Linked DNA regions of Homo sapiens. The protein of the gene in region 1 purifies or fractionates together with the protein of each later gene. This does not show direct contact. Each region holds a gene or a part of one and is shown in the gene's direction. Other genes may lie near its edges. The genes, in order: MSRB3, TIGAR, C1QL1 and SNX21.

What was found.
Region 2: the proteins of MSRB3 (region 1) and TIGAR fractionate together in Homo sapiens (co-fractionation; one large-scale study listed by BioGRID). This does not show direct contact.
Region 3: the proteins of MSRB3 (region 1) and C1QL1 purify together in Homo sapiens (affinity purification with mass spectrometry; 2 studies listed by BioGRID and IntAct, with this or other methods). This does not show direct contact.
Region 4: the proteins of MSRB3 (region 1) and SNX21 purify together in Homo sapiens (affinity purification with mass spectrometry; one large-scale study listed by BioGRID and IntAct). This does not show direct contact.

What each region holds. Positions count from the first base shown.
Region 1 is NC_000012.12:65,280,576-65,286,556, forward strand, and holds part of MSRB3 (methionine-R-sulfoxide reductase B3 isoform 2 precursor), read left to right. Parts: intron 1-5,981. UniProt on the Homo sapiens protein: Catalyzes the reduction of free and protein-bound methionine sulfoxide to methionine. Isoform 2 is essential for hearing.
Region 2 is NC_000012.12:4,326,729-4,332,709, forward strand, and holds part of TIGAR (fructose-2,6-bisphosphatase TIGAR), read left to right. Parts: intron 1-4,551; coding exon 4,552-4,589; intron 4,590-5,981.
Region 3 is NC_000017.11:44,957,612-44,963,148, reverse strand, and holds the end of C1QL1 (C1q-related factor precursor), read left to right. Parts: intron 1-2,781; coding exon 2,782-2,961; 3' UTR 2,962-3,456; downstream 3,457-5,537. UniProt on the Homo sapiens protein: May regulate the number of excitatory synapses that are formed on hippocampus neurons. Has no effect on inhibitory synapses.
Region 4 is NC_000020.11:45,836,199-45,842,168, forward strand, and holds part of SNX21 (sorting nexin-21), read left to right. Parts: exon of another isoform or gene 1-1,137; intron 1,138-2,069; coding exon of another isoform or gene 2,070-2,193; exon of another isoform or gene 2,194-2,334; intron 2,335-3,281; exon of another isoform or gene 3,282-4,107; coding exon of another isoform or gene 4,108-4,260; intron 4,261-4,440; coding exon 4,441-5,115; 3' UTR 5,116-5,639; coding exon of another isoform or gene 5,640-5,758; 3' UTR 5,759-5,834; coding exon of another isoform or gene 5,835-5,845; 3' UTR 5,846-5,970. Other genes in the region: ACOT8 (acyl-coenzyme A thioesterase 8), read right to left, coding at 5,640-5,758. UniProt on the Homo sapiens protein: Binds to membranes enriched in phosphatidylinositol 3-phosphate (PtdIns(P3)) and phosphatidylinositol 4,5-bisphosphate. May be involved in several stages of intracellular trafficking.

The sequences.
Region 1 (5,981 bases):
TTAATTCCGGTCCCAGCTGATATATCAGTCTAATTTCTGATGACTTTTATTAGGGCCCTATATGAATATCTGGAAATTTTTATATTAAGATAAGTAGCTCTTTGCTACTTATCTAGAATTTTGTCACAGTGCTTAAACTGCTTGTATGGCAAGGTTGCAGCATACAATGTAATTTAGATTTTGAATCAACACACTGCTTTTTGTTTTTAAAAGTGCTTGTTCTAATATTTTAACTAAGATGTTAATCCATTAAGTCAGAAATCCTTGCTATTTTGCTCAACTCAAAAGAATATCCAAAGACTATCCCAACAGTAAGGTTCATCAGTTTTTCTAATACATATGCCATTTAATAATTAAAAATAGATTTTAAGGCCACGTGTGGTGGCTCATGCCTGTAATGCAACACTTTGGGAGGCCAGTGTGGGAGGATTGCTTGAACCCAGGAGTTCGAGACCGGCCTGGTCAACATAGGGATACCCTGTCTCTACAAAAATTAAAAAAAAATTAGCTGGGCATAGTGGCTCACTCCTGTGGTCTCAGCTACTTGGGAAGCCAAAGTGGGAGGATTGCTTGGGCCAGGGAGATCGAGGCTGTGGTAAGCCGTGATCACACCACTGCATTTTTGGTTCTGTCATAATCTGGTCACAATCCCTCTAATTTATCTGCACCTGTATAATTAATTTATCATAGTTATGGATTTGGTTGATGAATTTGATTCCCATGTTTAGCTTCTCGGTAAAATTATTAAGTTGGACAGTTTCCATGTCTCTTCTAACTCCAAGATCCTATAATGTTGTTTTTGTTTATGTAACTCTTCAGAGCCACCTACTACATGTGGTTCAAACTTCTGATTGTCAGCCTGTGACTTGCTATACATGTCAAACTGGCCTACCTTAGCCAGATGTGATGGGTGTGGTCCAGTGTTGGAGAGTCCGGATCTGTCTCAGGATTGTGTTAATACCTGGAACATGCACAAAGATACATACATACCTGGACAGATTCCGTGTTAAGCTTCTATCACTTTTTCTTCCTCATCTAATAGCAGAAAGTGCTGATTATGTCATAGGGTAAATGCCTAACTGGTTTTTGGGGATAGTTAAGCCCAGGCCTTAAGACAGTTTGATATTCAGTTTTGTTATTTAGGTCTGGGTTAGGGATACCGCCAGAGAGCATCCAAACATTTCTGTGGTTGGGAAGGCTAGTTATCTGTGAGCATTCCAGATGAAATAGCCTATAATGGGTTATCACCTTTTGATCTTACCTCAGAGAAGATTGAATTGGATCTACCTATCTGATTTAGCAGAATTAAACTGGATTTGGATGGAAGGGTAATCAGCTATTTAATTTGCCAGTTGTTAGTTAGCATTTCTTCTTGCTGTATCTCAAGGATTTACTTTGAATATTCTGTATTTTCTCTTTCCTGCCCATGATGGGTTTTCCTTTTAAAATGCTCAGCACAGGCTGGGTGTGGTGGCTCACGCCTGTAATCCCAGCACTTTAGGAGGCCGAGGCAGGCAGATCACCTGAGGTCAGGAGTTTGAGACCAGCCTGGCCAACACGGTGAAACCCTGTCTCTATGAAAAATACAAAAATTAGCCGGGCATGGTGGTGGGCACCTGTAATCCCAACTACTCAGGAGGCTGAGGCAGGAGAATAACTTGAACCAGGGAAGCGGATGTTGCAGTGAGCCAAGATCATGCCACTGCACTCCAGCCTGGGCGACAAGAGCAAAACTCTGTCTCAAAAAAAAAAAAAAATTGCTCAGCACAGTCCCTCATCCATGTTCATATATTTGTCTGTATAGTATGCTGAAGTCATGTTTATGGCTTTAAGGGAAGTACAAAAAAGGAAAGTATAGAAAAGATCAAACAAACGCATCGAACAATTGACTTTATGAAAGATTTTGGTTATTGCCTCATTTAAGCTTCTATTGCAGTAACAGAAATGAACTAGTTTTAGCAAAAAGGAAGAAAGGAATTTGTTGGAAAACCATTGGAAGTCAAATGCAGGCAGACCTCATTTAGGGCCTGAGATAAGGGACTGGAAAAATCTAGAACATTCCCTGTCTCTAGTTTGCTTCACTGTTTTTTCTTTGCTGGTGTTTTTTTTTTTTTTTTTCTCTTCATGGTTAGATGTGGCTGCTCAGCAGCTCCTGAGTATTTATGTGTCCCTTCATAAGGAGGGACTATATTATTGAGCCTTGATCCTAAATTCCTGGGAGGTAGAACCTGATAGACACAGTTTAGGTCACATGGTTGACCTAGATTTTCCCTAAAGTCTCTTCTAATTCTAGAGTATCTGATGTACGTAGTACAGCCATGTAGATGGTTTGATTTTGCATTTTTCCATTTTATGTTATGAGGTTATAGTCCTTAAAATGAATTGTGAACATTTTCTCTGATAACAACTAATTCACTCTGCAAATAATCATCTGCATATTTTCAGGAATTCACTGAATAAAATGCTGACCTCCAGTGGCTCTTTAGGATAAGTTCATTAAAACTATAAGTGGTAGAGATATTTGAAACAGTAATAGCTTAGGGACTGAGAATTTATCAGTTGTTTTCCTATTTCTCACACATATCTAACATTTTCTGTCTCTACCTTTCCTTTAGGCTGTTCCTACTGCCTGGACCTCTTCTCTATCACAACAGGTTGAAGTCTTTAAGGCCTCTGTCAGATGGTAGTTTGTGACATTTTCTTCATACCACAGAATTTGTAATTTCCTTGTGCTTCTAAGGTGTTTTGGACCATGGTTGGAGTACAAGTTTTACTATATTGTCTTGTGTTGTAGTTAAGTCCATATATATTCAACTTCACTAAACTATAAATTCCATATGTCAGTGAATCACCTAGAATTTTTTTTTTTTTTTGAGATAGGATCTCACTCTGTCACCCAGACTGGAGTGCAGTGGCACACTCATGGCTCACTGCAGCCTCGAACTCCCTAGAATCAGGTGATTCTCCCACTCCAGCCTTCTGAGTAGCTGGGCCTACAGGCACCTGCCACCATGCCCAGCTAATTGTAGTATTTTTTTGTAGAGATGGGGTTTCACCATGTTGGCCAGGCTGGTCTTAAACTCCTGACCTCAAGTGATCTGCCAGCCTTGGCTTCCCAAAGTGCTAGGATTACAGGCATGAGCCACTGCACTCAGCTAGAAGAATTCTGATAGGCTCTGAGCATCCATTGTTCCAGGTATAACAATTCTGACTTTTTCAGATACTCTGATGCTTTTATGGTATCCTGCTTGCTGCTGTCTTCTTTTGAAATTGGAGTTCAATCACTCTGCTTTTCTTTCTTAATACTTGTCTGTTTCCTAGATTTTACATGCTTTTCCATGAACACTAATTTCCTGTATGAAGAGGGAATATACAAATGATAGGATGCTTTCCTGTAACTGAGATGGCAGGGGGAAGGAGAGGACAGCAACTCATACAGAAGGAAATCAGCTTTTGTTGAGCACCCAGAATTTACCAGATCAGATAGAGAGGACAGGTGTAGAAGAAAATGAGCATGTATAAAGTGGAATAGTGGGACAATAAAGTACAAATATGGAAAATTAAGTGGAAGGCTTTTAATGCTGTTAGGGAACTTGGATTGGGTTAGTAAGTTATGAGACTGACATTTTTGATCCTTGAAATGTCATAATCAGAGGTGAATTATAGGTTATATAATCCAATAGTTTAGATAATTAATTAAATTGGGAAATAAGTCATAGGACCAATAAAGAAGTGTTTTGAGAGTTTCTCTTAAGGAATGAAGACCTAACGAGAATAGCGGCACCGCAGTAGAAGTGTTGCTAAAGTACATTGGACAGAAATAAGCAATTGGATATTGGGAAAGAAAGGGATGAATAAAAGGTGACATGAGATGTTAAGCCTGGGTGATGGAGAGAATGTGATCTCAGCAGGTTTGTGGGTGGAGGTAAAAATAAGTTTTGTTCTAGATCTCTTGCTTTTGAGGTGCTGGTAGGATATTCCTGTGGAGATGTGTAGTAGAATCCGAAGTGTGAAACTGGAACTTGGAGGGAGAGATCAAGGCTGGAAATAAAACATGTATGAGTAAGGAGAGTTAAAAATAAAGAGAAAAAGAGAGCATTTGTTAGCTGGAGTAAAAGGAAGGGTACAGGAAAAGCATCATAGAGAAGAGAGAATTTGATCTGACTTTAAAAGATGCCGAGTCGGTATATGGCATTCTGTTCACGAGCTTTCCTTGTTGAGGGGACATCACATTTACTAACTTGAGAGATAATACATGGGAAGTGTTGGACAAAGGATACTGCATCCAGAATGACCTTTCTAAACTACAAAATCATTTCCCCTCTTTCCTGCTTAACCCTCCCTCAGTGGCTTCTTATCTTTCTTCAGATAAAGGACTGACTCCTAAATGTCTTCATCATCACCAATTTGAACACACATTGTGTCTCACACTCCTCCTCGTTCCTCACTCTTCTTCCCCAAGACTGGACAGAATGTGAAGAAGATATGATTTCCACCAGATGGAGTACTCTTTATACTTTTTTGGGGTCCTTTATGGTTACTTTTTGTGGCCATGGTCAGGTTCTTATCCATAAAATAATTATTGATAACTTCCTAATGTAAAATGAAAAATAATGATAAATCACATACTTCCCTCATTTTTACAGAATTCCTTGCTTGCCTTATCTCTTCAAGTGTTGACTGCAAGGTTCCTGTACACTTACTTGAGTTGGCCACTCCGGTCACTATACCCTGATCTCTGACACTTGGCCGTGGTAGCCTGGAGCAGCATTGTTACTGGGCATTGCTGTGATTGGGTTACCCAGCTGTGCTGATGTGGAAACCTCAGGGCTATTTATTGATACTTGGTTTCCTAAAGGAAAGTTGAGGGAATGTATTTTATGAGAGGGCTTTATTTACACGATTAAAGAGGTTTATAAAATGTGGAGATGAATATAGGTGAAACAGAGAAAGAATGCTGGTATAGGAGGTGTTTTCGGCTGGGTTTGGTGGCTCATACCCGTAATCCCAGCACTTTGGGAGGCTGAGGCGGGTGGATCACTTGAGTCCAGCCTGGGCGGCGTAGTGAGACCCATCTCTACAAAAACTACAAAAATTAGCTGGGCATTGTGTTGCATGCTTGTAGTCCTGGCTACTCAGGAGGCTGAGGTGAGAGGATTGCTTGAGCCCAGGAAGCAGAGGTTGCAGTGAGCCAAGATCGTGCCACTGCACTCCAGACTGGGCAATAGAGTGAGACCCTATCTCAGAAAACAAACAAAAATCCCCAAAAAACCAGGAAGTGTTTTCTTAGGGTCTAGTTCCCAGGCGAATGGTATATCCTGATTCTAGGTTTATAAAAATAGTATATTATTCATAACATTTGTCTAAAGTGACACATTTACATACAGTATATAGTATTGAGTAATTTCCAACTCTTTAAAAATAATGGAGACCCTTTCATGTAGTAGTAACTATGTTTTTAGTATCTGTTGACTGAGAAAATACGTAACAGCAAAAGCTACTATAAAACTTTGAAATAAGTTCTTGTAAATGTAAAAAAAATTCTCATATATTTGGAAAGTATACATGTGGAAATTATGACTTATAGAGTCTATGGACACTTGATTTCTTGCTTTATGGATACTCTCAGGAAGTTCTGGTCTCAACTTTGAGTATCTCATTGTCCTCTTACTTTAGAATGTGGGGTATGGGGGAAAACTTCTATTTGAAAATTTGAGCCATAGCGGAAATTTTGGAATGACAGGGAAACACCTTCTCAGAATCCTCTTACAATAAAATTTATATATGTTATGCCAGACAATGTACTTTATACTAAGACTGGACTTTTAAATAGTCTCATGGATTAGAAGTCAGATACAATAAATAAATACTTTTTAAAAATTATATTTTTAGGTATATGAGCATTGTTGTTGGGACTACAGTGCTATTTTAAAGTGAAATTTAGTTGATTTGCATGTGAGTATACACCTACAGGTCTCTGT
Region 2 (5,981 bases), about 61 Mb from region 1:
TGTAAACCTTTATTTTAATTTGAATCTTTCATTATCTACTTTGATTAAATAAAAATGCTGAGTTACTCTTCAGCAAGTATACAAAAAGTAATCATCTCTGCCAAATTTCTGTGATTTGTAAATTCTGAGTTTTTTTGGTGGCTCTTGCATGATTTCTTGGTTGGCAAATTATTAAATTTCTTCTCACCCCTCATTTCAAAATGAGGGTGCTTCTTTGGCTTTGGCTGGAAATTGTGTTAGCAACCTATAAAAAGAAAAACTTTAGACAAATTAGACTTAGTTTATTTGAGCAAAGAAATGAATCATAAATCAGGCAGCACCTGAACCAGTAAAGCTTCAGAGTGCTCACCCAGTGACATAGGCAGGCAGTATTTATAGACAGAGAAAGGAAGTGACATGGCCAGGCGCAGTAGCTCGCACCTATAATCCCAGCACTTTGGGAGGCCGAGGCAGGAGGATCACCTTAGGTCAGGAGTTAGAGACCAGCCTGGCCAACATGGTGAAACCATGTCTCTACTAAACATACAAAAATTAGCTGAGCGTGGTGGCGCTTGCCTGTAATCCCAGCTATTTGAGAGGCTGAAGCAGGAGAATCGCTTGAATCCTGGAGTTGGAGATTGCAGTGAGCCGAGATCACACCACTGCACTCCAGCCTGGGCTGCAGAGTGAGACCCCATCTCAGAAAAAAAAAAAAAAAAAGAAAGAAAGGATGTGACATATAGAGATAGCCTGATTGGATACAGCTCTGCTTTGCCTTATTAGGACATGTCTGAGCAGTTTGCAGCCCATAATTGGCTGAAAGCTCAGCTGCCATGCATGGTTGGCTGAGACTTGGTTTTTATTACAGGAATATACTCTCAAATTATGTTGTAGTTTGTGTGCATATTAAGTTAGGTGACAGCTCCCTAGGCATGGAGGCAGTTTTAGGCCAGGTTTAAATTAAGGGCTACAAGCCACTGTCTAGCGAGGATGTTACTTGTTTTGTTTTGTTTTTGAGGGCGCAATCTCGGCTCACTGCAGCCTCCGCCTCCTGGGTTCAAGCGATTCTTCTGCCTCAGCCTCCCGAGTCGCTGGGACTACAGGCACACACCACCACGCCCAGCTAATTTTTGTATTTTTGGTAGAGACGGGGTTTCACCATATTGGCCAGGCTGGTCTCAAACTCCTGACCTCATGATCCGCCTGCTTCGGCCTCCCAAAGTGCTGGGATTACAGGCATGAGCCACCGCGCCCAGCCGAGGATGTTACTTATATTGAAATAACAGATATTTTATTCTTGGTCTCAGCAAGATTTTGAGGCTGAGACAGGAAGTGAATCCAATACATGGTAACTATTTTCTAGATTAAAAATGACAGGTTCCCCATGTTTGCCCTGAATGCTTCTGCTTTATCCATCTGAATGGTAGAGGCTAATATCCTCTTTCATGCCCATTTTATAAGATTCTGAATGAATTTTGGAGTGTAGGAAATCTTTTTTTTTGAGATGAGGTCTTGCTTTTGTCGCCCAGGCTGGAGTGCAATGGCATGATCTTGGCTCACTGCAACCTCCACCTCCTGGGTTCAAGTCATTCTCCTGCCTCAGCCTCCCGAATAGCTGGGATTACAGGTGCCTGCCACCACGCCTGGCTAATTTTTGTATTTTTAGTAGACACAGGATTCTACCATGTTGGCCAGGATGGTCTCGGACTCCTGACCTCAGGTGATCTGCCCTCCTTGGCCTCCCAAAGTGCTGGGATTACAGGCATGAGCCACTGCATGTGGCCTAGGTAATCTTTTATTAATATTAACAACAATGATAATGGCAAATCAGTGCTGTTGGTTTTTTACCAAGGTATAAATAGTTCCATGTATTTTTTTTTTTTTTTGGAGACAGAGTCTTGCTCTGTTGCCCAGGCTGAAGTGCAGTGGCATGATCTTGGCTCACTGCAACCTCCACCTCCCAGGTTCAAGCGATTCTTCTGCCTCAGCCTCCCGAGTAGCTGGGACTACAGGCACTCACCACCATGCCTGGCTGATTTTTGTATTTTTATCAGAGACGGAGTTTCACCTTGTTGGCCAGGCTGGTCCCGAACTCCTGACCTCGTGATCTGCCCACCTCGGCCTCCCAAAGTGCTGGGATTACAGGCGTGAGCCACCGTGCCTGGCCAGTTCTGTGTAATTTTATTTCTTTATCATACGTTTATTTTTTAAGCTAATACATCTACATATTTAGAAATCAAAACAATTCTCCGTAGTCTTCCTATTCTTCCCCCAACCAATAGGTGGCCACATTTATTAGTTTCATGTTTATCCTTCCATTGTTTCTTTGTGCAGATCCAGATGTTTATTTCCCTCCTTTCTAAAAGGGTAGCTTTCTTTTTATATTACTCTATACCCTGCTTTTTCTACTTAATCATATATCTTGGTGAGCATTCCATATCTTTACATATAATCTCTCTCTTTAAAGGACACATTTACATAGGATTCCATTAGGTAGATATGTCACTGTTTATTTGTTAATATAAATAATGGTTATTCTGGCCATAGTTAAGGAATGAGTTATGGACATTTGGGTTGTTTATAATCTGTTGCTATTAGAAATAATACTGTAGCTAATGATCTTTTTTTTTTTTTTTTTTTTTTTTTTGTGAGACAGGGTCTTGCTCTCTCACCCATACTGGAGTGCAGTGGTGTGATTGCAGCTCACTGCAACCTCTGCCTCCCGGGTTTAAACAATTCTTGTGCCTCAGTCTCCCGAGTAGCTGGGATTACAGACGCCCGCCACCACGCATGGCTAAATTTTGTATTTTTAGTAGAGATGGGGTTTCATCATCTTGGCCATGCTGGGCTTGAACTCCTGACATCGTGATCTACCCACCTCGGACTCCCAATGTGCTGGAATTACGGGCATGAGCCACCACGTCTGGCCACAAATAATCTTTTAAATATGAGTGAATTCAGTTATTCCCAGTAATTGGGTTATTGGATAAAAGGGTAAACAGATTTGTCATTTTGATAGGTATTTCCAGATGACCCTCCCTAGGTAAAAGCACATTCACTGAAGTTCTGTCATTTCCCAGCATTTTCTCCAGGCCCTGGGCATGTTGAGGGTATGCAATCCCTGCTTGTGCCTTTAAGGAACTGGAGCCAGGATAGACACAGAGCTAAAAAGTCAATTAGCACACAGATGAAAACTTATGTTGGTAGTGCCAGGGGACCATGGGAGTATAGAGTGTGGGTATTAAATAGAGTAGGTAGATGGGGAATGGTACTGGGGAGGGAGACTACCTAAAAGAACCAGTCTTGTGTTGGGTCTTAAAGAACATTCATATTGGCCAAATCCAGCAATCTGTATCTTGGCAGAGGTTGGCATACAGCTGTTTTTGTAAACAAGCGGCAAGATTCCAGGATGAGGCCTGAGTTTGTGATTCTGACTTCCAGGTCTGGTAGATTTTTTTTTCTAGATCTGAGTAAATCAGTCCTATGTGACATTTTAATTATTATAAACTAGTGCTTCACTTAAAAACAATGGAGCGATCATTTTCCATCGAAATCAAGGAAATGCAAATTAAAATTAAAGTGAGATGAATTGTTCAGGTACCAGATTGGTACAAATTGAAGAAACCTTCCATCACTGAATCTTGTTGAGGGTGGTACACCACACTACAGGGTGGTGTAACCTGCTATGACACTGGCATTACCTAATAAAGCTGGTATTTGCATACCTTATGGCCCAGCAATTCTAGTGGTAGGTTGGGTCAGCAAACATTTAATTAGTGCTCAAAGAAATTTCAGCTGAATTCTCTTTGATTCTACTTTTCATGTATTTGAAAGTTGCATTATTGTTAACCTATCCTGCTGTCTGTCCAGTCTTGCCCATGCACTTCCCGCCCTTTTCCCCCTCCAGCCTCAGTAACCCCAGTTATTTTCTGACAAAGTTTCCAGTTCTTTTACCCTTCCGGTTGGTTCAGATTGCTTTGATTTGTTTTGGTATTTTAGTTTTTAAAAGTGTAGTACTCAAACCTCAGTTCAGTGTGCAGTTAGTTGGTCTGCGAGATAGCTGTCAGTACTACAAAAAATAACTGCTGAAGACCTAGGAACTAAGAGAAGGCAGGGGGTTCTGAAGGTTTGTGCACGTCTCTCCCATTCCATTCAGATTCTCTTTCACTTGCTCATTCAGTCCAGCAATGAATAGACTGACTCTCACGTTTTTGTTCCTGCTGCCAGTAAGAGTAGTTTTGATCAATATATTTCTTTTAACAAAATTATTTGGCTGAAATGTTATTTGCATTATATTTTTTAGTAGGATTTTCCACCTGCAATTCACTTAAGATTGGTTCCTGATCTACACGTTTTAGTTTGGAGTAGTTTGAAATTCTTAGCTCTTCATTAAAGAAGACAATTGCAAATATTAGTTTAGAATAAATTGTTTTTACAGGTTGGATTATGAAGTGTGTTACAAGTTTCACATGATATTTTTAGAGTATCACCACACTTGATTGCTCATTTTTTTCCTCCTCTCAAAAACAGTATAATTTGGCTAATAAGGTTGTCCTTCTCTTTCTATTTTAGTGGAGAAACAAGATTTAACAAGGAGAAAATAATCCAAGGTTGGTATAATCCGATTGTTATTTTAGCTCTCACCCTTGTGTTAATAAGATGTGTGAGTTAAGCAGATTTGGTGGGGTGGGGTAGACTGGGGGCAGCACTCCATTGTGAATTGGGATTACAGAATCAAAGCATCATAACCACAGAAATATGATCAGGGCTGTTAGTAACCAGGAGGAATAAATCTCTCAAGTGAACTGGGTGTGAAGTACAGGTCTCCAAGTTATTCTTTATGTATGGCTTCAAAGTGGCTCTGTCAGCTGATTAATTATATTGGGTCTGGGTGTCTTAAAATATAAATGTCTGGATTTGAAATTATTTTATATTTGGAAACATGAAGTTTACTGACTGGTGTTAATGGTATTTTTTTCTGCTAAGATGGTTATTTTAATTTTAGTAGTAATAAAGGTTTAAAAAAAGAACTATTTTCACATGTGGTCGTTACTTTATTCTGAAGAGATTCTTTCTCCCTTTTTCTGTTAATTTGGACTCAGATCTTTTATTTGCCCTGTGATCCAGCTAGTCTGGCTTTTTAAGAATATCTTGAACTTTTGGCTAGACATGCTATTTCTGTGCTGTGATTATAAAAGCATTTAGTTTTATTTTTTTGGTTAGGGACTTCCGGGGTTTACAAAAACTGATTTTCATATTCCGTGTGCCTGACTCCCTTTTATGGACAATAACTGGTCTGATTCTCAAAGGAACCTTTGTTTTCAGACGAAATATGCCCCACCCAGGTTATCCTCTGGACTGAAGCCTCTTACCACCTGGCCTTTGGTATTGCTCATTTCTCTTTTTCCTAAGACATTGACAATGGAACGTCAAGAAAGTTTTTGTGTTCTTTTCCTGACCTTGTCAGTTGGATGCTTTAGTTCTTTAAGTTACAGCCTTTTGTGTATAAGCATTCAAGGCTCATGTATTTCTTTTTTTTTTTTTTTTTTTTTTGAGTCAGGGTCTCACTGTGCCGCCCAACCTGGAGTGCAGTGGTGCGAACTCGGCTCACTGCAACCTCCGCCTCCCAGGTTCAAGCGATTTCTCATGTCTCAGCCTCCTGAGTAGCTGGGATTACAGGCACGTGCCCCCATGCCCAGCTAATTTTTGTATTTTTGGTAGAGGTGGTGTTTTGCCATGTTGGCCAGGCTGGTCTTGAACTCCTGACCTCAGTTGATATGCCTGCCTTAGCATCCCAAAGTGCTGGAATTACAGGCCTGAGCCGCCGCACGCGGCCTCAAGGCTTATATATTCCTAAGTACTGTTTTTGTTTGCATGCCCGTAGTTTTGACACGTGGTAATGTGGTAAGCATTCAGCACCAAGTATTTTCAATTCCCATTGAGTGACTTCCATTATAAATGCTTTTGTGTTCTGTCAGTATGGTTTATTTGATGATACTTCT
Region 3 (5,537 bases), on another chromosome or scaffold:
CCCCTCCTGGCAGCCCTTGAGGAGCTGATTATACAGCGCTCCCTCATAACAAGGCCCAAACCTGCTTTCCTGCTTCCTTGGCAACCTCATTTCCCCACACTTCCCCTTGGACCCCAGGAGGAGCTGCAGGCCTCAACTGTCTCCAGTCAGGCAGAGAATTGGGACCCCTGGGTTCCATTCTTGGATCCCCCACCATCTAAGGATGGAAGGGCATAAATTCTCTCTGCCTCCATGGATAATTAGGATAATTACGGCAACAATCATGGTGATGAATAAATAATAAACATAAGCATAACAGTTCTGATGCAGTCACATCACCAGGAGATTCCTGATGACAGATGACTCTGTTCCAATGGATTTGGCTATTAAGGAGCACACTGTTTTAATGAGTTAAGGCTAAATTAATCTGGGCAATAAAAATAATTGTTATTAGTAGTAATTTATTAGCAAAGATAATGAAATGCATGTGTAATAATAAATATTACCAGGATTAGGGCTCAGGGAACAATACAGAAGTTGGCTGTTTGCTTTCAGCTCTTCCCTAATAACTCAAAGCCCCATCAAGATCTAATGTTTTTTTTTCTTTATCATCAAAAGACTTTTACAGAGGTGGCAGTGGTGAGGCAAAGTCTTCTCATCCATTTTCTAGACAGAGAAACTGAGCTCCTTGGCAGACAGCATCTCCCCCTTCATTTATTCCCTCCCACCTTTAACTAGACCAGTTTTCCCAGCTAAGCACACAAAGAGTTTCTTCTCAGGTTGGGAAGAAGAGGTTGAGGGAAAAGAAGGGGCTGGAGAAGGGCTTTAAAGGGAGGCCCTCATGCAAATATGTCGGGTCCTCTTCATTGCAGCATCGCGGCTGAGTCAGCAGCTCTGGCACAGCTGACCTGCAGTGCTGCCTCCAGCCCAGGAGAGAGGATGGGCCCCTCCCCTAATTTGGCTTGGTTCTACCCAGACTTCAGCCCTGGGAGTTGGGATGGTAAGCTGCCTTCAGTGAAGGGACAGGATAGAGAGGGGCCGTGGAGAAACCTGGCTGAGAGAACTCCACTCAGTGCAGCCTCCCCACACCACAAGCCACAGTCCTGGAGAGGGCGCTTCTCTTCCATGTCTCTACCCAGGATACCCTGGAGAGGCCCCGATCCTCAAACTCAGGACTTATGTTTCCATACCTGTTAGCTGAATGTCTGTAGATCATTCGTTCACCACCACACAATCTCTCTCTCTCTCTCTCTCTCTCTTTTTTTTTTTTTTTTTTTGAGACGGAGTCTCGCTCTGTCGCCCAGGCCGGACTGCGGACTGCAGTGGCGCAATCTCGGCTCACTGCAAGCTCCGCTTCCCGGGTTCACGCCATTCTCCTGCCTCAGCCTCCCCAGTAGCTGGGACTACAGGCGCCCGCCACCGCGCCCGGCTAATTTTTTGTATTTTTAGTAGAGACGGGGTTTCACCTTGTTAGCCAGGATGGTCTCGATCTCCTGACCTCATGATCCACCCGCCTCGGCCTCCCAAAGTGCTGGGATTACAGGCGTGAGCCACCGCGCCTGGCCTTTTTTTTTTTTTGAGACTGAGTCTCACTATGTCGCCCAGGCTGGAGCGCAGTGGCATGATCTCGGCTCACTGCAGCCTCCATTTCCCAGGTTCAAGTGATTCTCCTGCCTCAGCCTCCCCAGGAGCTGGGATTACAGGCGTGCCACTATGCCTAGCTAATTTTTGTATTTTTAGTAGAGATGGGGGTCTCACCATATTGGCCAGGCTGTTCTCGAACTCCTGACCTCAAATGATCCACCTGCCTGGGCCTCCCAAAGTGCTGGGATCACAGGCATGAGCCACCGTATGCAGCCACCACACAATCTCTTATGATTATAGTCAGAGCCCCCAAAAGTGACGGCAGGCTCCAAGCCCAAATGCTGGTGCTCCCTTGACCCATTATCCTGCCTGTCCCTCCCCATCCCCCATCAAGGCAGGGACCAGCAAGGATGTCACATCAGACTGAGAATCCCAGAGGGAAGTAAGGCCTGGATTCCCTTCTTCCCACCCAGTTCCTTTCTACCACCCTGAGGTGAGACAGGAGGAGCTACAATCCTCTTTGGGTGGGTAGTGACAGGTACATAGCTACAGCTCCATGGAGGCTGGCACCCAGGCCCCTTCTAAACTCTGGGAGGGGAAAGCATTACCAGGCCTTCTGTCTCACTGCTGCAGCAGGAGAGACTCTGGAATGCACTTCAGACCAAAGACCTGGCCCTGGTTCCAGGGTGGTTGCTGACTGGCAGCCTGGCATTGGTCCAGCTGCCTGACCTGTGGGGCCAAGGTGTGCCCTTGTGTCCATCCACTGACATAAGATCCAGCGGGTGTGGCTGAAACGATGGCATCATTATGAAAGCAGAGAGGAAGGAATGATGAGAGTAGGGAAGGCCCTCCATTCCCTGGAGGTCCAGAGAATTCCTCTTTGCAAGGACAGGCTTCCAGGCTTCCTGGAGGTATTGAGGTTCTCAGCCAGCTGGAGGGAAAGCCCTATAAGAGTTAAGGAGGAAGACTCTGCCTTGACTCCCAATTCAGGCCCAGATCAGACCTGCCCTAGAAATCCAGGGATCCTCTCTGCCCCTTTCCTGAAACAAGTCCTGTATGATTGGAAGGGGGCGGGGGAGGGGGAGCGTGGCAGGGATGAGGCGAGGCTGGAGGCCAGGTTTCTGGGTCTGCTGATCCTCCCCCACGGGACTGCCTCACCTCCCTCCCTTCTCATCCTCTCTCTCCTCTCGCCCTCCCTCCCGTGTCCCCCACCCGCAGGTGCGGGCCAGTGCTATTGCCCAGGACGCGGACCAGAACTACGACTACGCCAGCAACAGCGTGATCCTGCACCTGGACGCCGGCGACGAGGTCTTCATCAAGCTGGATGGAGGCAAAGCACACGGCGGCAACAGCAACAAATACAGCACGTTCTCTGGCTTCATCATCTACTCCGACTGAGCTCCCCACGTCTCCCTCCACCCACGTCCCTCACCCGCCGGGGTCCCCTCCGGGCGGGGCAGACGATGACTCGCCCCTCGCCCACCCGCTCGCTGCCCGGCCCTCCCCGGCTATGACGCCCCCGGCCCGTGCTCAACACCGCCTGGGCCACAGCTAGGCCCTCCCACCGGCTCGCTGCAGAGCCGGGCCCAGCGCGCCCTGTCCCCGTGCCAGGGAACCGGGGTTGACCGCCCCCGCCCAGCCCGCGCTATATATTTGTACAATAGGACTGTTTACTGCCCACCTCCGCCTGCCAGCCCACCCCAGCCTGGGGAGAGGTCGCGGCGGCGGGTTTGCTTCCTGCGCTCTGAGATGAGCTGCCCTCCGCTCCCTCCGGGGTGGCGCGCCCGGGGGAGGGGGGAGTTGGGGGCTGGATAGCTTCCCAGCACCCTCAGAGCCCCCGCCCGGCTGTGCCCCGTCTGACCAAAGTTATAATAAAAACATTTTCACCCCGCAGGGGTTTCAGTCTGTGCCCTGGGGAGGGCTGCGGGAGGCGACGGTGGACCGTGCCCTCCTCCAGATTAGGAAGGGGTCTGGTGGAAGTTTCTAGGGGAAACCAGGTGCCAGAGCCAGAGCTACTCCAAGAAGAAGTTGCCAAAGGGCCTAAAGCCCACCACAACCCAAGTGGGCCTGGGCAGCTGGGATGGGAAGCAGCCCAGTTACTTCATCATCTTCCATGGTGGACACATTCCTTTTTTTTTTTTTTTTTTTTTTAGACGGAGTCTCGCTCTGTTGCCAGGCTGGAGTGCAATGGCAAGATCTCGGCTCCCTGCAACCTCCGCCTCCCGGGTTCAAGCGATTCTCCTGCCTCAGCCTCCCGAGTAGCTGGGAATACAGGCGCACACCACCACGCCCAGCTAATTTTTGTATTTTTAGTAGAGATGGGGTTTCACCATGTTGGCCAGGCTGGTCTCAATCTCCTGACCTCATGATCCGCCTGCCTCAGCCTCCCAAAGTGCTGGGATTACAGGCGGGAGCCTCGCTGAAAGTGGCATCAGCATTCCACAGGCACAGGTGATCTTTAAACAGGGAGACCTAGGTCCGGCTCTGGGCCACCGTGTATGATCCTGGGCAAGTCACTTCTTTCAACGCAATTTAGGATTAGTGACAGCCATAGAAAGGAACATCCTTTGGACTAAAGGCTGGTTAACCTAGGTCTACGCACTTGACCTCTGTGCCTCGGTTTCCTCATCAATAAACGTAGGAGACCTACCTCACTTGATTGAGGATTCGTGAGGTTTATTGTTATGTGCTCAGTAAACATAGCTTTTATTATTTATCTATAACTTGCAAAATGCTTCCAAGTATGTCATCTCAAGTTTTCCAAACAGCCCTGGAAGGTTGGACCTAGATTTTATTCTTGCAGGGAGGTTAAATATCTTGCTTACATAGTTTCTAAGTTCTGTGATTGCACTTGAAAATCCAAGACATGGCCACGCACGGTGGCTCACACTTGTAATCCCAGCACTTTGGGAGGCCGAGGTGGGAGGATCACCCAAGGTCAGGAGTTTGAGACCAGCCTAGCCAACATGGTGAAACCCTGTCTCTACTAAAAATACAAAAATTAGTTAGGCGTGGTGGCAGGCACCTGTAATCCCAGCTACTTGGGAGGCTGAGGCAGGAGAATAACTGGAATCCTGGAGGTGGAGGCTGCAGTGAGCTGAGATCACGCCATTGCACTCCAGCCTAGGCAACAGAGCAAGACTCCATCTCAAAAAAAGGAAAAAAGAAAGAAAGAAAATCCAAGACATACCAAGTCCCCTTACTCCACCACTGCCATCCTCACTTCCTATAACTGGAGGCCATGTCACACAGGGCATTTCTAGATAACAATAGCTAATATTGAGAGAGCACCCATTATATGTCAGGTACTACGTAAGAACTTTATAAATATTATCTCATGGATATGTGTGCAGGGGTGGGCAGTAGATCTACAGGAAATTATCTCATGCCCTTTAAAATTATGCTGTTATTTTATCCATTTTAGGTGAGGAAACTGAGGCTCAGAGAGGTTAAGCAACTTGCCAAGATCACAGAGCTAAAAACAGGCAAATGCCAGTATTTGAACCAAAGATAATGCTCTTACCTGGTACACCATATTTCAGAGTTGGGATCTCCAAAGCAGATCTGAGGATGGCACCGGGGCAGCCTGAGCCCAGCCCTTCCACTTCCACCCCAACCCTGCAGACGCCTGATGTATTTACAAGCATCTGCCCTGGGCGGCAGCCATGGAGTGAGCCTCTTGGAGAATCCCAAGGCTCTACATTGAGGAAAGGTCCCATCTGGCTTCCCCTCCCCAGTCTAGCTCAGCTGGAGAGACAGGAAGGAGGGGTGGCCTCCCTCCTGGCCAGGCCTCATGTATAGACCCTTGTCATGGCTGGCAGACTTGAATGACTTTCTTTATCCTCCCTTCTCTTCCCTACTTCCCCCACTGCCAGCTGTGGCCATTTAATAAAATTAGCTTAATGCTTGTTCCTTCCCTGTGGGGTCTGGAGATTGAAATCTGCGGGTCCCCACAAACCCAATAAAACCCCTGG
Region 4 (5,970 bases), on another chromosome or scaffold:
TTTAAAAAAATTTTTGAGGCCGGGCGTGGTGGCTCACGCCTGTAATCCCAGCACTTTGGGAAGCCGAGGCGGGCGGATCACGAGGTCACGAGACCATCCTGGATAACACGGTGAAACCCCGTCTCTACTAAAAATACAAAAAAATAGCCGGGCATGGTGGCAGGCGCCTGTAGTCCCAGTTACTTGGGAGGCTGAGGCAGGAGAATGGCGTGAACCCAGGAGGCAGAGTTTGCAGTGAGCCGAGATCGAGCCACTGCAGTCCGGCCTGGGCAACAGAGCGAGACTCCGTCTCAAAAAAAAAAAAAAAAAAAAAAAAAAATTTTGAGACAGGGTCTCGTTCTGTCACTCAGGCTGGAGTGCAGTGGTGCAGTCATAACTCACTACAACCTCCAACTGGGCTCAAGCTATCCTCCCACCTCAGCCTCCCAAGTAGCTAGGACTACAGCTGTGCACCACCACGTGTGGCCAATGATGAAGTCTGAAGTGGCAAAGGTCTCAGAACTCTGGGTTCATACACTGGAAGGGGACACCAAGGAATAGTTCAGAGGCTGAGAGGAATGGGGGTGACTGTGGGTACCTGGATGGGAAGGGATGACAAGATAGAGCAGGATGGCCAAGTATGCCCCGGCCTGTGTCTGGAGAAGCAAGGCACCTCCTGTGTACAATGGGGACCCTAATTCCCCACTCAACTTGTGGGGGTGAAGAGCACAGGCTTTGGAATCAGATCAACCTGAGTTTAAATCCCAGCTGGGCTGTTTTCCAGCTGTGTGACTTACGGCAAGTCTTTGAGCCCTTTTCCCCCTCTTTGAGCCTGCTTCCTCAGCTGTCAGAGATAAGGACCTTCCTTGCAGTGCTGTTGTGATGATTAAATGAAATCACAGATGTAAAGAGTGCTTGGTACAACAGGAGGCACAGGGTAAATGCTTGGGTAATGGAACTACTGTCATTATCACCCATCTGGCTGCATGTTACAAGGTCAATGAGATAATGGATACAAAATGTAAACTAGATGAACATAAAGGCTTATTATATAGACCAGTGTGTCCTGAAGAAAACTGGTGTCCTAAAGTGTGTCCTGCAGAAAACTAGTTCCCTGGAATGTTAATAGCTGTTTCTAAATAAAGGTTTTGCAGGCAATATGTTTTGAGAATGCAGAGTTAAATGAGAATACAATAAGTTTCTTTATTGTTAAAGTATTTAATCCCTAATAGTGATATACACTGTGAATCTTCAAGAGGACAGAGTAAGCAAACCTAACTGACCAGGAGTGGCTAGAGTATTGTCAGTTCCACAGAACAAATGTGAGAGAAAGATCTGGATTTGGTGTTAGGGTGCCTTTAACATCTAACACTGGTTAACTCTCCTTTTAAACCTGTTGGCTTGGCATTATAGGTTAATCCATATTCAGGTTCTCAGACCTGGGAGGCGGGGAACTTCGTGATCATCTTGTTCAGTGTTTTCCAAACCTCAGTCATTCCAATACCTCCCTGATTCTTGTCCTATCTAAAAATGCCACTTGTGTCCTTTTCTTCTTAACATTTTTCTTTAAATGAACCTATTTTTTTTTCTTTATCTTTTTTTTTTTCTTTTTTGAGACAGAGTCTTGCTCTGTTGCCCAGGCTGGAGTGCAGTGGTGCAATCTCAGCTCACTGCAACCTCCACCTCCTAGGTTCAAGCAATCCTCCCGCCTCAGCCTCCTGAGTAGCTAGGATTACAGGTGCCCACCACCATGCCTGGCTAACTTTTGCATTTTCAGTAGAGATGGGGTTTCACTGTTGGCCAGGCTGGTCTTGAACTCCTGACCTCAAGTGATCTGCCGCCTCAGCCTCCCAAAGTGTTGGGATTACAGGTGTGAGCCACTACGCCCAGCCGAACCTATTTTTTTTCTTAAATAAGTTTATCGAGACGGAGTCTTGCTCTGTCGCCTAGGCTGGAGTGCAGTGGCGTGATCATAGCTCACTGCAGCCTTGAACTCGTGGGCTCACATGATTCTCTGCCTCAGCCTCCTGAGTAGCTGGGACCACAAGTGCCCAACTAATTCTTTTTCTTTTTCTTTTTCTTTTTTTTAGAGACAGGGTCTTGCCATGTTGCCCAGGCTGGTCTCGAACTCCTGGCCTTAAGCTGTTCTCCTGCCTCAGCCTCCCAAAGTACTGGGATTACAGGTATGAGCCACTGTGCCCATCCTTTAAGTAATTTTAAAAGACAACTTCATAGCACTACCGTACGTGGAAAGTCTCACTTGCCACCGAGAGAAGCTAGCCATAAAAATAAAAGGTGAGGCACGGTGGCTCACACCTGTAATCCCCGCACTTTGGGAGGCTGAGGTGGGCAGATCACCTGAGGTCAGGAGTTCAAGACCAGCCTGGCCAACACGGTGAAACCCCGACACTACTAAAAATACAAAAATTAGCCGGATGTGGTGGTAGGCGCCTGTAATCCCAGCTACTCGGGAGATTGAGGCAGGAGAATTGCTTGAACCCAGGAGGCAGAGGTTGCAGTGAGCGGAGATTGTGCCACTGCATGCCAGCCTGGGCGACAGGGCGAGACTAAATAAATAAATAAAGTAAATAAGTAAGTAGTGAAAATGAAACGTCATTAAATCTTGCCTAGATGTTGTTGCCTGAAGGAGGCCCTGACCTGAGATCCACTTTCTGACTCTTTTCTAAAAATGGAGATGAGAAGTGTTAGAGAAGTACTTTTTTTTTTTTTTTTTGAGAGAGAGTTTCACTCTTGGTGCCCAGGCTCGAGTGCCATGAGCAATCTCGGCTCACCACAACCTCCACCTCCCAGGTTCAAGCAATTCTCCTGCCTCAGCCTCCCAAGTAGCTGGGATTACAGGCATGTGCCACCACGCCTGGCTAATTTTGCATTTTTAGTAGAGACAGGGTTTCTCCATGTTGGTCAGCCTGGTCTCGAACTCTCAACCTCAGGTGATCCACCTGCCTCAGCCTCCCAAAGTGCTGAGATTACAGGTGTGTGTGTGAGCCACTGCAACCTGCCCAAGAAGTCCTTTTTTTAAAACCAAACTGAGAGCTGGCCAGGCGCGGTGGCTCACACCTATAATCCCAGCACTCTGGGAGGCAAAGGCGGGCGGATCACAAGGTCAGGAGATCGAGACCATCCTGGCTAACACAGTGAAACCCCGTCTCTACTAAAAAATACAAAAAATTAGCCGGGCGTAGTGGCAGGCGCCTGTAGTCCCAGCTACTCGGGAGGCTGAGGCAGGAGAATGGAGTGAACCCAGGAGGCGGAGCTTGCAGTGAGCCGAGATCGTGCCACTGTACTCCAGCACTCCAGCCTGGGCAACAGAGCGAGACTCCGTCTCAAAAAAAATAAAAAAATAAAAAAACCCCAACAAAACCAAACTGAGAGCTTCTCAATTTGTAGTCAGAAAGATTAAAAAACAATTAGGCTGGGTGTGGTGCTCATGCCTGTAATCTTAGCACTTTGGGAAGCCTAGCTAGGAAGATTGTTCAAGGCCAGGAGTTCAAGGCCAGCCCTAGCAACATAGTGAGACCCCCCCTCATCTCCATACAAAAAAAAAAAAAAAAATTTTTTTAAATAGCTGAGTGTGGTGGTGCATGCCTATAGTCCTAGCTACTTGGGAGGCTGAGGCAGGAGGAATGCTTCAGCCCAGGAGGTTGAAGCTGCAGTAAGCTATGATTGTACCAGTGTACTCCAACCTGGCCAACAGTGAGACCCTGTCTCAAAAAATAATAATTAAAAGGGGACCAACCTCCTGATACAGTGATATTTACTCTAGTGCACACCACCTAAAAACCTCAGGTACCAATACTTGTACATGTCTCATTTTTGGACAAACACTGACTTGACCGAGCACTTCCTTCACTAGAAACAGAAGTGGACCCAGAGGGGGACTCCCTTGCCTGGGTCACACAGAGAAGGAGTAGCTGACCTGGGGTTAGAACTTGAGTCCTAGGCCAGTATACTTTTCACAGTTATGGCAGTTGTGGCTATCTACAGACCTGTCCTCTGGGTCTAGTTTGGAAAAGCCTGACCAGGGATGTGGAGGCCAGGTGTCCAAAGTGGAACAAGCTCCAAGCTGGTCCTAAAGGAGCCCCAAGAGATTGGCTGGGGTTTCAGCTTATGTCTGGTTTTCCAGAGGGGGCTGTCAGAAGAACTAATGCTCTATGGGAAGGGAGTACAAAAAAAGGGGCAGCAGCCCCGGGCACTGAAGCTCATCTCTGTCTTTCTCTCTTCTTGCTGCCTTGGGCCTGGGTCATTTCAGACAAACCTCAGGTAAGATGGGACTGGGCTTCCCCGCCACTGCGCAGCAGCTCCCGCCCTCCTGGGTGCTGTCCCAGGGGTGAAAGGAAGAGGTGGGGAGGTACAGCTGGGAGTGTGGGGGATGGGGAAGGATGGGGAGGGAACGGGCCCGTGGACAACTTGCATTTGCCCTGACACCCACCCTCCCTGCAGCTCTACACCCTCGCCGTGATCGGCCCAGGACCGCCAGATTGCCAGCCAGCCCAGATCTCTCGCCGTTACTCGGACTTTGAGCGGCTGCACCGAAACCTGCAGCGGCAATTCCGGGGCCCAATGGCTGCCATCTCCTTCCCCCGTAAGCGGCTGCGCCGGAATTTTACTGCAGAGACCATTGCCCGCCGTAGCCGGGCCTTTGAGCAGTTTTTGGGTCACCTGCAGGCAGTGCCTGAGCTGCGCCATGCCCCGGACCTGCAGGACTTCTTCGTGCTGCCGGAGCTGCGGCGGGCACAGAGCCTCACCTGTACTGGCCTCTATCGTGAGGCTCTGGCACTCTGGGCCAATGCCTGGCAGCTGCAAGCCCAGCTGGGCACCCCCTCTGGCCCAGACCGCCCCCTGCTGACCCTGGCTGGGCTGGCCGTGTGCCACCAGGAGCTGGAAGACCCTGGAGAGGCCCGGGCATGCTGTGAGAAGGCCCTGCAGCTGCTTGGGGACAAGAGCCTCCACCCTTTGCTGGCACCCTTTCTGGAGGCCCATGTCCGGCTCTCCTGGCGCCTGGGCCTGGACAAACGTCAATCAGAGGCTCGGCTCCAAGCCCTGCAGGAGGCAGGCCTTACCCCCACACCACCCCCCAGTCTCAAAGAATTGCTCATCAAGGAGGTGCTGGACTAACCCTTGCCTAGATTTAAGGCCACTGTGAGGAGAGGGGTTGCCCCAGAAGGCAGGGGAAGGACCTGATGAGAACAGAATAGCTGGGAGGCTGCAGAGGGTGCTGGGAGCCCCTAGAAGTTCCAAAAGAGAATGTGAAGCAGATCAAGGAAACTTCTGTTGAGCTAGGCTCAGGGTGAGCTTTGGCTGGGGTTGCCCTTGTGTAGTACAGGGAAGTCTGACACAGCCTCTCCAGCCTATAAACAGCCGGGGGGCTGTGGCACAGGTTGGGGCAATGTTCCCTTGTTGGTGGGCCCCCAAGCTGGCAAGGCCTCTTGGCTGAAGGCCAGGGACTCTGCCCCTGGAGTCCTGGAGTTAAGGGATGAAGGCAAGGCTGCAGGTCTGGCCCAGGGGAATTAAAAGCCAGCCACTCCAGTGGTATCAGTCTCTTTATTGGATGTGAGGGCCAAAAGGGACTGTAACTCCTGTCTCAGGAATGGGGATAGATGGGAGGTTCTTGAAGCCCCAGGCGAAGCTGGTACCTCTGGCTACAGCTTGCTCTCTGAGACCTGGGGCTTCACTCGGATCACGCCCTCCTGGGCACAGGTCACAGCTAGGACTCCATCCTGACGCCACAGCCGCCCATGGACCAGCCCCCGAGAGCCACCTGTGGGTGAGGTGAAGGGTGATGATGGCCTGCTTCAGAACAGCCAAATACACTTTTTTTTTTTTTCCTGAAACAGAGTCTCACTAAGTTGCCAGGCTGGTCTCAAGCGCCTGGGTTCAAGGGATCCTCCCGCCTCAGCCTCCTGAGCAGCTGGGATTACAGGCGCACATCACCATGCCCAACCTCCAAGTGGACTTCTTGCAAAGGGTCTG